Linked DNA regions of Homo sapiens: regions 2 and 3 are each reported to be linked to region 1. The links are microRNA targets in miRTarBase. Many come from high-throughput screens and were not tested one by one. Region 1 holds a microRNA gene; each other region holds the end of a gene's coding sequence. Distances are between the middles of the regions.
What was found. The annotated mature microRNA hsa-miR-652-5p reads CAACCCUAGGAGAGGGUGCCAUUCA and lies in region 1 at 3,643-3,667, opposite strand. An mRNA with a match to its seed (bases 2 to 7 or 8) in the 3' UTR can be bound and repressed. Matches are read on the target gene's strand: a 7mer-m8 pairs with bases 2 to 8, a 7mer-A1 pairs with bases 2 to 7 and ends in A, and an 8mer does both.

Region 1 (5,178 bases):
GAAAAAATAAATATACTGTACTTCACCAAAATTAAAATATTTCATGCTTCAAATGACACTATTAAGAAAGTGAAAAGACATCCCAGACTGAGCATGGTGGCTCACACCTGTAATCCCAGCACTTTGGGAGGCCGAGGCAGGCAGATCACTTGAGGTCAGGAGTTTGAGACCAGCCTGGCCCACACAGCAAAACTCTGTCTCTACTAAAAATTAAAAAAAAAAAAAATTAGCCAGGCGTTGTGGCACATCACATGCCTGTAATCCCAGCTACTTGGGATTACTTCTCCTGCTGAGGCAGGAGAAGTGCTTGAACCAGGGAGGCAGAGGTTGCAGTGAGCTGAGATCACACCACTGCACACTCCAGCCTGGGCATCAGAGTGAGACTCTGTCTCAAAAAAAAAAAAAAGAAAGAAAGGGGAGGGGAGGGGAGGGGACCCAAAGAATGGGAGAAAAAATCTGCAAATCATGTATCTAATAGGAGTCTAGTATTCAGAATAAATAGCTCTTAAGACTCAACAATAAAAAAGAAAATTAACAGATGGACAACTCAATGAAATCAGGAAAACAATGTATGATCAAAATGAAAAGTTAAATAAAAAGATAGAAACTGTAAACAACAGCCAAACAAATTCTGGAGCTGAGGAATACAATGACTCAACTAAAAACAGGAGATTTATCAAGCAGAAGAAAGAACCAGCAAATTTGAAGAACAGTTATTTAAAATTACCTCATCAGAAGAGAAAAAGAAAAAAAAGGATGAAAAGGAATAAAGAACCTTAGAGGGTCAAAAATACACAATGGGGGAAAAGATGCTTGCTTGAACAAATGATGTTGGGGTAACTGGATATCCACACGCAAAGTAATGAAATCAGACTCTTATCTTACACCACACACAAAAACCAACTCAAAATGGGCTTAAGACTTAAATGTAACATCTGAAACCATAAAACTCCTAGAAGAAAACATAGGAAAAACTTCTTGAAATTGGTCTTGGCAATGATTTTTTGAATATGACATCAAAAGCACGTGCAAGAAAAGTAAAAAACAAACAAACAAAAACAATTAGGACTACATCAACCTAAAAAGCTATATAGCAAATATTTGCAAACCACAAATTTGATGTCAATATTTAAAATATGTAAAGAACTCATAAACTCAATAGCAGAAATACAAATAACCCAATTTTAAAATGGGCAAAGGATCTGAATAGACATTTTTCCAAAGAAGGCATACAAATGGACAACAGGTATATGAAAAGGTGCTCAACATCACTAATCATTGGGGATATGCAAATGAAAACCACAGTGAGATCTCATGTCACCCTTGTCAGAATGGCTATTATAAAAAATGCAAAAGATGGCAATATTGGGAAGGGTGTGGAGAAAACAGAACCCTGGAAAACTGCTGATGGAGATCAATAGAGCCATTATCAAAAATAGTATAGTTTCAAAAAAAAAAAAAAAAAAAGACCTATTCTATGACACAGCAATCCCACTTCTGGAATACTTATCCAACAGTTGAAATCAAGATCTCAAAGGGATATCTGCACTCCTATATTCCTTGCACCGTTATTCACAATAGCAAAGATATAGAAACAAGATAAATGTTCATCGATGGATGCATGAATAAAGAAAATGTGGTATATTATCCAGCCTTTAAAAAGAAGGATATCCTATCATTTGCAGTAACACAGAAGGACCCAAAGGACATTATGTTAAGTGAAATGAGCCAGAAAGAAAAATATCTTATGATGTCACATAAATATGAAATGTAAATTAGTCTAACTCATAGAAGCTGAGTATAAAATGATGGTTAGCTGGGGCTGGTGCTGGGAAAGTAAGATGTTAGTCAAAAAGTACAAAGTTTTAGTTTTCCAGGACAAGTAAGTCCTGGATATCTAATGTACAGCATGGCGACTATAGGTGAAAATACTGTACTGTATACTTAAAATTTGCTATAAGAATAGATCCTAAGTATTTCCAACACACACACACACGCATACACACATAAATGATAACTCTATGATGTAATGCATGTGTTATCTTGATTGTGGTGATTTCCATATATATATATAATCATTAAGTTGAAAACCTTAAATATATACATTAAAAATAGCTAAAGTATTAAAAAAACTCAACAATAAAAAGATAAATAACCTTGAACAGACATCTCTCCAAAGAAAACACACGGGTACTCAACATGCACATGAAAAGATGTTCAACATCATTAGTCATCAGGGAAATGCAAATCAAATCCACAATGAGATGACACTTCATACCCACTAGCATGGCCAAAATATAAAAGGCAAACACAAGTGTGCATGAGGATGTGGAGAAATTGGAACCCTTTTATACTGTCGGTAGGGATGTAAAATGATGCTGCCATTTTAGAGAAACAGTCTGGCAGCTCCTTGAGAGGTTAAACATAGAGTTATCATATGACTCAGCAATTCCACTCCTATACCTGGGGGAAATGAAAACCTATGTCCAAGGGAAATAAAAACCTATGTGCACCTGAAAACTTACAGATGTTCACAGAAGTATTATCTGTAATAGCCAAAAGGCAGAAACAACCCAAATGCTCACCAACAGACAAATGGATACATAAAATGTGGCATATCCTTAAAATGGAATATTAATTGGCCATAAAAATAAGTGAAGTACTGATACATGCTAAACACAGATGAATCTCGAAAACATACTAAGTGAAAGAAGCCAGTGGAAAAAGGTCACATATTATAATTACTCAATTTCTATGAAATGTCCAGAATAGATAAAATCTATAGAAACAGAAAGTAGATTAACAATTGCTTAGGGCTGGTGAGTGGGGGAAAGGTAGGGAGGGGGGTGAGCTAAATCGTATGGAGTTATTTTTTGGATGATGAAAATGTTCTAAATTTGACTGTGGTGGTGGTTGCACATATATGTGAATATACTAAAAACATTCAATTGTACACTTTAAATGAATGAATTATATGGTATATGATTATAACCCAATAAAGCTGTTTAAAAAACAAACTTTGGATAGCTCCTTATTGCTTGATAAATAAAAGTCCAAATTCCTTAATTGGGCATTCAACTCCCTCCCCTCCTGCATCATCATTTGACCCCCGACCAGCATCATTGCTCACTACTCCCTTTTACATGCTTTTCTATCCAACCAAGATGAATTATGCACCATTACCCATATATCCCTTGTGGTCTCCCATCTGTCTTTCTTCTCGCTATTCCTTCCCCCTGAGATTCTCTCCTCCTGACTCATCTTCACATGTTAATATTCTACTTCTTTCACAAAGCCCAGTTCAAATGCTCCCTCCTATGCAAACCCCTCCCTGTTCTTCAACCCTCACATAGTAGGCACTTAAAAAACTATTTACTGAAAGAACGAAGGTACGTAGTTCTCCTATATGATGGCTCTCATTTACAGAGAAGATAATTCTCCCAAAGCCACAACTTTACTTCTTTCTTCCTTTCCTGGTCACAGCAGCAGCTCACTGCTTCAGCCCCCTTACCCTGAGGACAATCCCAAACTGGTACCTTGATGAAGAAAGTACTGACATTACATTATGCCAGGGCCGCCGAGTACAGTTGTGTAGGTTGTGCACTGCACAACCCTAGTGGCGCCATTCAATTATAGTCTATGTGAATGGCACCCTCTCCTAGGGTTGTGCAGTGCATAGCCATTCGTGGCGGCCCTGCTTGGAAACATTCCTAGTGTTTGAGAACAAAGCCAAAAAGAACACTCAATGAGAGAATCACTATGTTGTCGCTGAGAAGTAGGCAACTCAAAAATCTTGTCAAGAAAAAAGAAATTCAAGAGAATAGCATGGCCATAGCACACAAACAGCATTTGCATGGAATTGAAAACAGGAACATCCAAGAGAAAAATTGTTACTGATGTTTCTCCAGCAGTGGAGAGAGAACAGGACACACATTCTGGTCACACTACAAAGCTATGACAGACATGCAAAAAGGTACAGTTTTCCATGGACTACCAAAGCCTATATGGTCTCGCTCATGAGACTTTTCAACTCCATTAGGTTCTGATTTTAGGTTATAAAACAGTCCCTGTTTAATTTGGCTTCAGGTACCTTGATATCAGAAAGGGCTGATACACACAAGTGTTCTCATCTCTATAAAGGTCTCTCTCTCATCATCAATCGACTTATCAGCCTGGTGATTTATTAAGAAGTGTTTTGTAATGTTGGGGAGTGTGACCCAATCCACTAGAAACCAACAGCCCTGGGTAAGCTGATAAAAATTAGGCTTTGAACCTACAAACCAAGTTGCAGAGTTAGGACCCGTGTCAACTCCACCAAGGCACAGACACCCTCAAGCTCAGTCAGAGCAGCTGGCCAACTAGCTGGCCAAGTCAAAACTGCAGCCAGTAATTCAGGGCACTCCAAAATGGAGAGCCATAAAGGACTGGACATATTGGTAGTGACAACAGGTGAGCTGGTGGTAGAGCTCAAGGGTGCCAGATGTTGCGTTTGTTTCTTCTTTTTGTTCCCCACTCCAGTTCAGTTCAGCCTCCCACTTTCATATTTGCTCCACCTGGAATATTTCATTCCACTTCTTCTGTCTCCTCTAGAGATTTCCTGGATAAGTCACAAAAATTAAGCATTCTTTTTCTGAACTCCATTGGTATTTGTTGGTACTTATACACTAATCACTTATTAGTCTCATACTGTTGTTAGTAACAACAATAATGGCAGTAGTTATTCCTTACTGAGTGCTTACTAGGTGCCTGGCACTACAGTCAATGTCTTACACATATTAGTTCATATATTCTTCATAGCAATCCTATTATGTAAGAGATTATTATTTTCCTCCTGTTTGCATACAAGGAAACTGAGCTACAGAAAGGTTAAATAAATTGCCTAAGGTCGCACAACTAATAAGTGAGTCAAAGAGTCAGGCCTGGAACCCAAAACTATCTGATTCCAGAGGTCATGTTTGTTGCCAATACTACCTTTTGTCTCCACCATAAGATAATTTATCTTTTCTGGAGTTCCCTCTGCCTCCACTCCACATAGTGCCTAACACACCATCGGACATATAAAAGTCCTCCAGAACACATGCGCACATCTGCCTCTGCTCCCTGTCCAGAGCCCAGCCCAGGACATAAGCTGGAAGAGAAGGGAAGACGGTGTAGTTAGCATGAAGGGGCTTGACCTTT
Region 2 (5,000 bases), not on the chromosome of region 1:
TGGGATGACAGGCATGTGCCACCACGCCCAGCTAATTTTTGTATTATTAGTAGAGATGGGGTTTCACCATGTTGGCCAAGCTGGTCTTGAACTCCTGACCTCAGGTGATCCACCCGCCTTGGCCTCCCAAAAGTGCTGAGATTACAGGCGTGAGCCACCGAGCCCAGCCTGAAGCATTTTTTTTTTAAAATAAAGAGCATCAGGACTCTTAAAGCTTAGCATCCTTTTCAAATATAATCAAACTTGAAGTCTCATCTGAGTCAATCAGCTATTCATTCATTTAATGAATATTTTTAATATCGATGTACATGCCAGATAATGAAGAGGAGGGGTGTTACAGAAGTATACAACAAATTGTATCATTCAGCAATCCTTTATCCTAGTGGGGAAGATGACTATACAGATAATTACAACTTAAGGCCATTTTTTGGATAAGAAACATAAAAGTGGTACAAACAAAAGTTCAAGGAGGCAAAGACCACTTCTTATTCTGGTTATATGGATAGCCTTCATGGAGAAGGCTTCATGACAGTTGGGTTGGGTCTTGAAGATGTCTACAGGTAGAGCCTCAGAAAAAGGAATATGAAACATAGGGAACAGTAGGAGGAGGGCAGCTTTAGTGACTGGCTCGGTTATACTAGAGCATTGGGATTGTAGAGGAGAATCATGATTGATTAAGGCTATATAGGGCAGTTAGGGCCAGATACTGGGGGAATTTGAATATCAGACTGTTATTTGATGAACAGTAGGGAGCAGCTGAAGGTTTTTTTTTTTTTTTTAAAAAAAACAACCTTATTAAGGTAGTGCTGATGTACAATAAACTACACATTTCAAAGTATGCAGTTTGATAAGTTGGTGTGAAATCATCACCCATAAAATCACTACAATCAAGATAATGAACATGTCTAATCACACTCAAAAGTTCCACTGAAGGACTTTAAGAGAATGGCATTCAAAGCAATGCTTTTGGAAAGTTATTTCTTGATTTAAAAAATAAATGCCCCCTTCTGATAAGATGTTTAAGTCTTGTAATCTTCATTGGTATGTTAAATTTAAAAATGAATGATACCATATCTAAAAATGAATCAAAATAATAGACAAAGAAACCACAGCTTTGATCAATCTGATGGCAGTATATAGGACAGACTGGAATGGAGCAGGAACAGAACAATCTATTGAAAGCCTAAGTAGGAGGCTTTATTAATAGTCCAGGCAGTTGCTAATAAATCTGGTAGAAGAACCAGGACAAAAATGAAGTAACAAATGAGAAAAACTAGTTGGGTGAGTTGGACTGGAGAGAGAGAGACAAGGTAAAAATGACTGAGGTTTTGAGCTAGTTGTATCGCAAACAGGGAGAGTATGGGGATAAGAAAGGTACACATAAATAAATAATAAGCATCTGTGGGTATGGAATTGAGAAGGGAAATAAATCATATTTAGGAATCACTCACATTGATGTGAAAGTAAAGCCATTAAGAGTGGTTTGCATCTGTGAGAGACAGGGTTAATGGAGAGAGAAAAAAGTCAAGCTAGAACCTTATGAACTGCATAACACAGAATTCCAAATTGCTAATGGCACAGTGTTTAAAATATTCCAAGTACTCACCCTTTACAAAATGTATTTGTTTTATTTATCTCTCACAAAAATCTTATTAATAAGTTACCAAATCATCTCTATTTTACAAATGTAGAAACTAAGGTACAGAAGAATTATGTCTCTTGCCCAATGTCACATAATTAGCCTATGGTGAAACTAAAGTGTTAAAATCAGGCAATCTGAATCCATTTTTAATTCCTGGGTTACAATGTCTTCTTCCTGCAGCCCAATCACTTAAGCTCTCCTAAGATAGAGTCTCTTAAAATACACAACACCTAGGCCAGAGCTGCTTAACGCATTTGCCTAGTATAATCCCCGTGGGCACCATATCTTCAAATCTCAAGATAATGCAGTATACTTGGAACTGTTTTATGAGCAACATAGGATAAAACTGGGAGCTGGAATTATTCAATTTAGATTGAATTTGCTGAAACTTAGTTCAAATGCATAGACAGAAGTTTATTTCATAAAACAGAATAGCAACAAAGTAAAAATTTTGATTTTGCCTATGAAGTCAAATACCACAAAACTCATCATCTTGAGTTTATAGTAACATAAGGGACAAAGGAGTACAAGTTTCTTAACTGGTAGCCAAAAATATAATTTCTACTAAAGAGAAACAGGACACATCATTTATGGATTACTAACTTGTTGTGATTTAACTAGGAATAGAGGAAAAAGCATAACTTTATTTATTTTCTTTTTTTTTTTTTAGACAGTTTCGCTTTTGTAGCCCAGGCTGGAGTGCAATGGCGCGAACTCAGCTCACAGCAACCTCCGCCTCCCAGGTTCAAGTGATTCTCCTGCCTCAGCCTCCTGAGTAGCTGGCATTACAGGCACGTGCCACCAAGCCTGGCTAATTTTTTGTATTTTTAGCAGAGACAGGGTTTCACCATGTTGGCCAGGCTGGTCTCAAACTCCTAACCTCAGGTGATCCACCCGCCTTGGCCTCCCAAAGTGCTGGGATTACAGGCATGAGCCACTGCGCCAGGACAAAGCATAACTTTAAAAAGCAAAAATGTATTAACAGCACTACATATTTACTTCTCTGCATTTAGAGGAGATACATAGATGGCTGGCTGATAGAGGGGAAGTGGTTAGCTTTGTTAAACTTTAGCCAAAGTTATTAATGCTGCTTTTCATGAATCACTGTAGCAATGCCTTTCTTCTTGATATTTAGGAAAGTAGTCTGGTTTTTGGAGTCTCTACCTGATGACTGCCTACTAATCTATTAGATCATTAAGGACTATTTTGAGATACAAGATCATACAAATCATAAGCTTTGCTTCCAATCACTCTCACTTGTAGGGCCAGAGAAATGGACTACTCAGGAGCTACAGAGCTCTCTGATTGGCTGAAGACCCAGAGAAACTGTGGATTATGCAAGAACTAACAAACATATGGAGACTAAGTTCCCAAAGAAGAGTTAAATATCTTTGAGTTTAAACCCTATCTACAGCTGTGTTTGCTGGAATTGTCAGGACTGTAATAGAGTTTCAGTTACCAAGGAGAAATGTTGATTTAGAGAAGGGGTCAGCCAACTTTTTCTGTAAAGGGCCAGCTAGTAAATATTTTGGACTTAACCAGCCATATGGTCTTCTATAATCATTCAACTCTGCCATTGTAGCACAAAAGCGGCCATGGACAATATGTAAACAAGTGAATGTTGCTCTATTCCAATAAAACTTTATTTACAAAATAAGACAGCAAGCCAGATTTGACGCGTGGGTTGTAATTTATCAATCTATTCTCTATAGTGATGGCTGTCACACTCTATATGTACATCAGAATCACCTATGGAACTAGTTTAAAAGGTAGGTTCCTAGGCTCCAGCCTACCCCTACAGAATCAGAATCTCTAGGAATGCGAATCAGCAATTCAATAAGGTCCACAAGTGGTGTGTGAACCACACTTTTAAAGCTTTGTGTTATGCAGCTAGCTTCATCTAAGCTGGGGTGGCCTTGCTGTCCTAGATGTGGGCCAGCACTTCCTGCATCCTGTGGCAGTAAAAATGGAGTAACTTTTATTTTCTTTGACCTTCCTAGTAGAAACAACTGTTTTTGTTTGTTTGTTTGTTTTTTGCTTCCAACCTCTAAAATGCATAAAATAGTCCTTCTCAGGTGAAATTAACATGAAGTTTAGGGATGATTTTGAATGAAAATGCTCAACTTAAAATAACAAGATTTTAGGCCGGGCGTGGTGGCTCACGCCTGTAATCCCAGCACTTTGGGAGGCCAAGGCGGGCGAATCACGAGGTCAGGAGATCCAGACCATCCTGGCTAACACGGCGAAACCTCATCTCTACTAAAAATACAAAAAATTAGCCGGGCGTGATGGCGGGCTCCTGTAGTCCCAGCTACTCAGGAGGCTGAGGCAGGAGAATGGAGTGAAACCGGGAGGTGGAGCTTGCAGTGAGCTGAGATCGCACCACTGCACTCCAGCCTGGGTGACAGAGTGAGACTACGTCTAAAAAAAAAAAAACAAGATTTTTCAACCAAAAAGCTTCCTGAAATCCTTTAAATTGCAAAATTAGTAGGCACAATTCTTACCAAAAGACAGGGCTACATCTGAAGAAATAGTTTCCATTGTTCTCCCTTTCTCTCAAAATACCTCCAGCAAAGGCCTGCCCTGTTGCTTATAATTCCACTACTAACAAGTCATTACTTTGTGTCTAGGGGTCTTTGCTTCAACAGAACCTCATTAAAACTCATGTGAAAACAGAAAGTAGAAAATCTCTGTGGTTTGCATTAAGTTGACAAAACAAAACAAAACAAAAACCAACTCTGCAGGCCTCTGGCAGCTGCTCCCAACTTTAACAATCAGTAAAAAATAACTTATTCAGCTAAGTTCAGTTCTGATAAAATGAAAAAAGTGCTTTTTTATTTGTTTGTTTGAATTCCCAGGAATCAATCACCCAATCAGTCAACAAGGAAGTGATGTTCAGTCTCGTGAATAGCTCCAACTCTTCAGCTCTCCAGATTTTCCTAGGGAAGACAGAGAAAATCCTACAGTCAAAGGAATTGCTTTCAGGAACTTCCTAAGAAACCAGGAAATGATCTGCAGATAGCTCCAGGAAATGTAGCTCTTATTAAGGCTTTCACTGACCCTGTAAATGGAAAGGAGTGCTCTATGACAGCATAAGTTCTGATGATTACTAAAACATGGGCTTAGAATACCTTATATAGTTACCACTACAGCAAAGACTGTTTTTTCTTAGATACTATTAAGGTGATTCTGACTTCCCTAACACACACATAGAGAAGTTAGGAAAAAAAGACCCAGAAATTTACAAAGGAACGGAGTGAAGCCAGGCTGAAATTAGAACTCTATCATGAATATACTTTATAGATGATTATGTGTAGGAAATGAAGATTAGCTTTACAGTAGTCAGCAGTCAATATTT
Region 3 (5,000 bases), 26 Mb from region 1:
AATATTAAAATAAAGAAATAGATGTCTATTAGTTGGAAATCATTTATTGCCTCTATAAAAGTTTAAATAAAAACTCTACAAAAATTCACATTACAGTCTGATGTGGTTTTAAGGTGACAGTATATTTCAGAGGTAGTACTAGTAAAATGGGATGCAGGATTGCTAAAATGAATTACTTAACAAGTTAATGCAAAATAAAATTTCAGTGTGGAGCAATATACACTCAGTATATATTTTAATGAAACAATTTTAATTATATTTGCTTGAAAATATCACTTTACTCTTTTTTCCCCCTAGCAAATCTGTTCTTAATCAAAGTTTGTTTTCAGCAATGGTGTGTTGACTGTAGGTTCACAAGTTAGTAGCCTCCTTGATTATAGCATTACAGAGCATAGCTTGGTGAAGAGCATGATACAGTGCTGTCTGCCAAGGAAAATACCAACTTCAAAGAGAAATCTACCCATTTACCTAACATTTAGATACAGTGGTACTGATAACTCCCTTAAAAAGCTAACCTATCACATGTTTGCATGTTTAAGATCTGAATGAAAATCTAATATATTAAAAAAGTAGACAATATTTCTGGAATAACACAACTGTAATACGGAAGAAGGGCAGGAGTTAAAGTTTTCAGAATGTCTTTTAAAAAGGATCACAAAATAGTTGTCTGAGATGAAGAAACTATCCCTTGGAAATGGGCTGAATCCGATTCCCACCACCCCCACCAAAAAAGGCAACAAAGTCCATTTTAGAGCCCAAAATTATTTTAAATTAACCACTTATGTTTTCTCCTACAAACTTACAGACTGCTGAATATGAAAGTGCCTCACAATAGATGTTGCTGTCTTTGGAGAAATGGCTTCTTTGACATCTTTTGAGGTCTTGGTCGAATAAAGAGTACAGGGTATAATTGGGTCTCAGCCTTTTCTTCTCCAACAATAACAAACATTTCTATCACATGCTTGCAATGGCAATACAAAAATCCTGCTGTTGATAACTGACCTTAGGACAAAACATCCCCAGTTTCCATGAAGAGGCCAATTTTCTTTTAAGGTTTTCTTTGCATGTGCTAATTTTCCTATTCTCCAGAGCAATTGCAATTCTCATTTTCTTGTGAATAAGTTTAGCTTGGCTGAAAAGAAGAAAATACCTTCCTTTTTTTTTCATATGTACACATTTTGGAAGGTAAGTGCTCTTACATACACATTTCTGGCTTAAAAACTGCTTGGCTGTTCTAAGCTTAAAGCAGACATAGAAATGTAGTTGAAAGAAAAAAAGAAGTTTTTTCTTGTTGTTGTTTTTTGTTTTTTGTTTTTTTCCACATTGGCTTCTGTCTCCCTGAGAGAGCCTTCAGATAGTAAGGTCTGTTTTAATAATCTCAAAGCCCTAAAGAAAGAAACACTAGTTAGTTAATTTTTATCCCCAGCCATGAAGATGTCCACAAGAGTAATTATAAGCTGATAATTTTTCCTGCTCTAACATATCTCAAAACCAACTCCTATCTACATATGTAAAAAATATACTTTCTTCATAACAACTTTTCAAAGCTTGACCTTGACATCTTTTTCAAAGTCTACCATGAATAATTTCAATCTGGCAATTATGATTCTTTTTCTATAGATAGAGGTATTTCCTTCAGTTCCTGCTACAGAATAGCCACATTTCATTTTAGAAGTGTTTTAATTCCAATGATGGTGAAGAAAAATATTCTGGTGCTGAAACACAAATTTCAAGACAAAAGGAGTTCTAAATGTATTGTTATGATTTATATAGTTTCTATTTTGATGAAATGTTAAACAGAGACAAAAAGATCATCTATGCTTTCTCTCAAAATTGTGGACTAGGAATCCTTCTAAGAATCACACCTAGCAGAACCTTAAATCTATTAAAAATTCTACTTAAATATGGTTTATTAATATCATAGAAGATGTTAAAAAGAAATAATTATTTGTGATGTTTACAGCTTGCTGAGAAATCCAATGTCCAGCACAGTGTCTTCTCTATAGCAGGAGCTCAACAAGTATTTTTCGATTTAGTGACTAATGGCTGATGCGTGACAAATAAAATCTATAGTGTTAAAAGCTGTAGGAGAGAATATACCTATAGTTAATTTGCAATGAGAACCAAATAAGAAGGGGCTTAAATTGAAGCAGAAGTAATTATATTTGAAAGATAAACTCAATGACTATGAAGCAGACCCTAGGAGAGACTTGAAGGCCTGGAATTTGTTCATGCTACTTAATAAGTGGTTTCTAACTTCGTTGTATATGGGGGCGACTCTTCATCTCATGGAGGAGTTGGTGTGACTGGTACATTTAATCGTAATATCTGAGGCTCTGTTACTCTCTGCTGCTTTCTCTGAATGGAATTTGACTTGTCAGCAAGAAAAACTAACTATTGTTTGCAAAACTCCATATGGCTCAAGGAAGCATATCTGAACACTGAAATATTCCTACTAACAAAGGGACCATATCAGTAGTATGGCAGCAATATAAACAAATAAGTGACAAAATGAAAGACTATCAGTGGGAGCTTACCTATTTGTGTGTGTGGGAGGATGGGACACTTCAAGGGTAAAGACATTTATGACTGCCTTTCTGTGTTCATAAGTTAGTACTAGTAAATTTCAAGATCAAATTTGGCTCTAATTACAAATTTTTAAAAATATCTGAATACCTACTAGGTACCAACAAAAATTAAAAACAAATTGGAAACAGAAACTTGATGGCTGAAACAGCCATCCAGCTACTTCATTAATCTTTTAGGTATAGATAGTAATTTAACCATGCAACACAATTGCACACTGCCAAGTCACAAATATATGACACTGTGGGCTTAGGGAGAAACTGACATTTTTTCTTCTATGGGTCTTGGTAATACCATCTGGTACTCCAGAAAGGAAGAACTACAAAGAACAGTCTACAGTGTGTTGCCATCTGGTACCTACTAATAATAGAAAACTGGGTAGCTTGCCCATTTTAGGTGTGTACTCATAGAATAGTATTCATGGAATTCAGAAGACTGTGATTTACAACCAAAGTAGTATAACTCTTTTTGAATACTATCCTTGGCTGATGGCTCTGTACAGGCCTCATATGGAAATGAGGTAAATTTTGTGGCAAAGCTGAATGACTAAATTTTTAAAAAATCTCAGCAGCTTACCTTGACTTCCTGTTTCATAACATGTAAGAACTAAAAAAGAATTATAAAGATGGTGATAAATTTAAAATATTTGTGTAACACTTCATCTAACCCAGGTATACAAATTTACTACTGGAATGTCAATCGTATCAATACTTGTCATTTGTAGTAATGAAGAATCCCCATCAAGACTAATTTTGACAACATTTTGTTTCTGTACACTTCGTAATTTATTTGACGTTATGTTGGTTAAATTACCTTTCCATTGTGCTTCCCCACCCCCACACAAATATTTGGGTTAGATAATAGAAGAACACCAGCAATTTACAATTACATACCTGTAATCATTTAATTTTCAGTCATTAGTTTAAGTCAAATTTTCATAGGGGTTAAAAACTAAATCAGAGAACTCATTAAATAATGAGTTAAATAATTTTTTAAAGTTTTGTTTTAAATGTTCAGTCCACTTTCCTGAGAAAAAGTGTAAGTGGATGATAGGAAAAGGAGAGAAGAAGAAAGAAGATGTAATGGCTACAAAAACAAGACTAATCAAGCTGTAGCAACTTGATAAGCAATGCTGAAATGTCTTTAGTTATTTTGTCTCTGGTTAGAAATTAGACATAATGAATTTCAGGGTTAAACTGCTGAAACTTAAATATAATTTTTTTCCAGAGTTCCATCAGTTAAAAAAATACTCTCTCAAACAATGCTTTTAAATTTCACCTACATTTTTGTTGCACTGTAGCCATTATATCTTGTACATTCTTCACAGAATACGTCCGTTTCAACAATGTGTTTTCCCAACTAAAGAATACCAGGGCAACAGAATGCAGTTATCTTGAAATGCACACCTGTTACGAAGCCAAAAGACTGTATCATATATTCCCTCCAACTGAAATCACAAACTTTCTGAGACATTTTTCTCTGACAAAGAAGATACACTGAATGAGGTATCATCAGGCTCCAGTGAGGCATGATTGAAATCCATTTCCTCTAATTCAGGAGGTAAATCTGACAGCAGTGCCTGAATAAAAAAAATAATATTTTTGGATTAGTATGTGGATAGATTGTTTTCCAATTTATATTAATAGTTGTAGTCCTCCCATGGTGAATTATCCTTATGGATTTAAAGAATAATTTATATTTCAGGATCTTAGACAATGCCTTACCTAAAAGAAAAATTCTTCATACATTATTCAGAAGGTAACAAAATTCTAGATGTTGAAAGTGTGAATTCTGTAGAGTAGAACCTGTACAAAGGGGATATTAGGAGGGAAATGAGCAACTCTTCTGAACCAAGTGCTTTGAAGTGTTTGAGGTTAGTGATTTTCATACTAGTTTTGAGTGTGCATTGATCACTGTTTAAGGGATTTAAAATTGCGTTCTTTGTTAAAATATTCATGCCAGTTATGCTGTCCTTTGTAGAAGACTGCATTTAACAAAAGACTATTTTGTTCTTCAGTGGGAGAAAGAACTTAGTAGTTAGGAAAAACCTCCAGCTATTTTACTTTAGACTAAATTTTAACAACTTGAAAAGACCAAGTAATTTTATTTTTTCTTTCCTAAGGCTATGTTCATACCTACAGATGGCCAAGCACCCACCAGGGCACAGCTGAATCAGTGGATCTATCTGTAGTAATGATGTATCTGGAGGGCTACTCATTTCTCTGCTTGAGTAATAAGGATAATCCAATAATGATGAAATAAGCTTTGTCATGGTCTAATTGTTTTATCTGAAGTTGTAGAACATGCACCCATTCTAAAGAAATAAATGATTAATCAAGTTTTACGCAGCTGACAATGCTAATGTTCACTTGACCATGAGGAACTTTGAACTTAATGATTGATTTGCTGCTTCC

Region 2: the mRNA of BCL2L15 is a reported target of hsa-miR-652-5p. Seed matches in the 3' UTR shown: 7mer-m8 at 3,043-3,049.
Region 3: the mRNA of HDX is a reported target of hsa-miR-652-5p. The part of its 3' UTR that is shown has no 7-base or 8-base seed match.

Annotation. Positions count from the first base shown.
Region 1 is chrX:110,053,838-110,059,015 of GRCh38, reverse strand. MIR652 (microRNA 652) reads right to left here and starts at 3,687; the gene lies at 3,590-3,687. All of the region lies in intron 2 of TMEM164 (transmembrane protein 164), which reads right to left.
Region 2 is chr1:113,876,560-113,881,559 of GRCh38, forward strand. It overlaps BCL2L15 (BCL2 like 15), which reads right to left. Exons shown (of 4, transcript NM_001010922.3): 4 at 257-4,581. The coding sequence ends at 4,564. The region is part of intron 3 of AP4B1-AS1 (AP4B1 antisense RNA 1); the gene reads left to right. Among named protein-coding and RNA genes, the nearest start is that of PTPN22, 7.3 kb to the left of the region's middle.
Region 3 is chrX:84,317,850-84,322,849 of GRCh38, forward strand. It overlaps HDX (highly divergent homeobox), which reads right to left. Exons shown (of 11, transcript NM_001177479.2): 11 at 29-4,165. The coding sequence ends at 4,040. Among named protein-coding and RNA genes, the nearest start is that of MIR548I4, 95 kb to the left of the region's middle.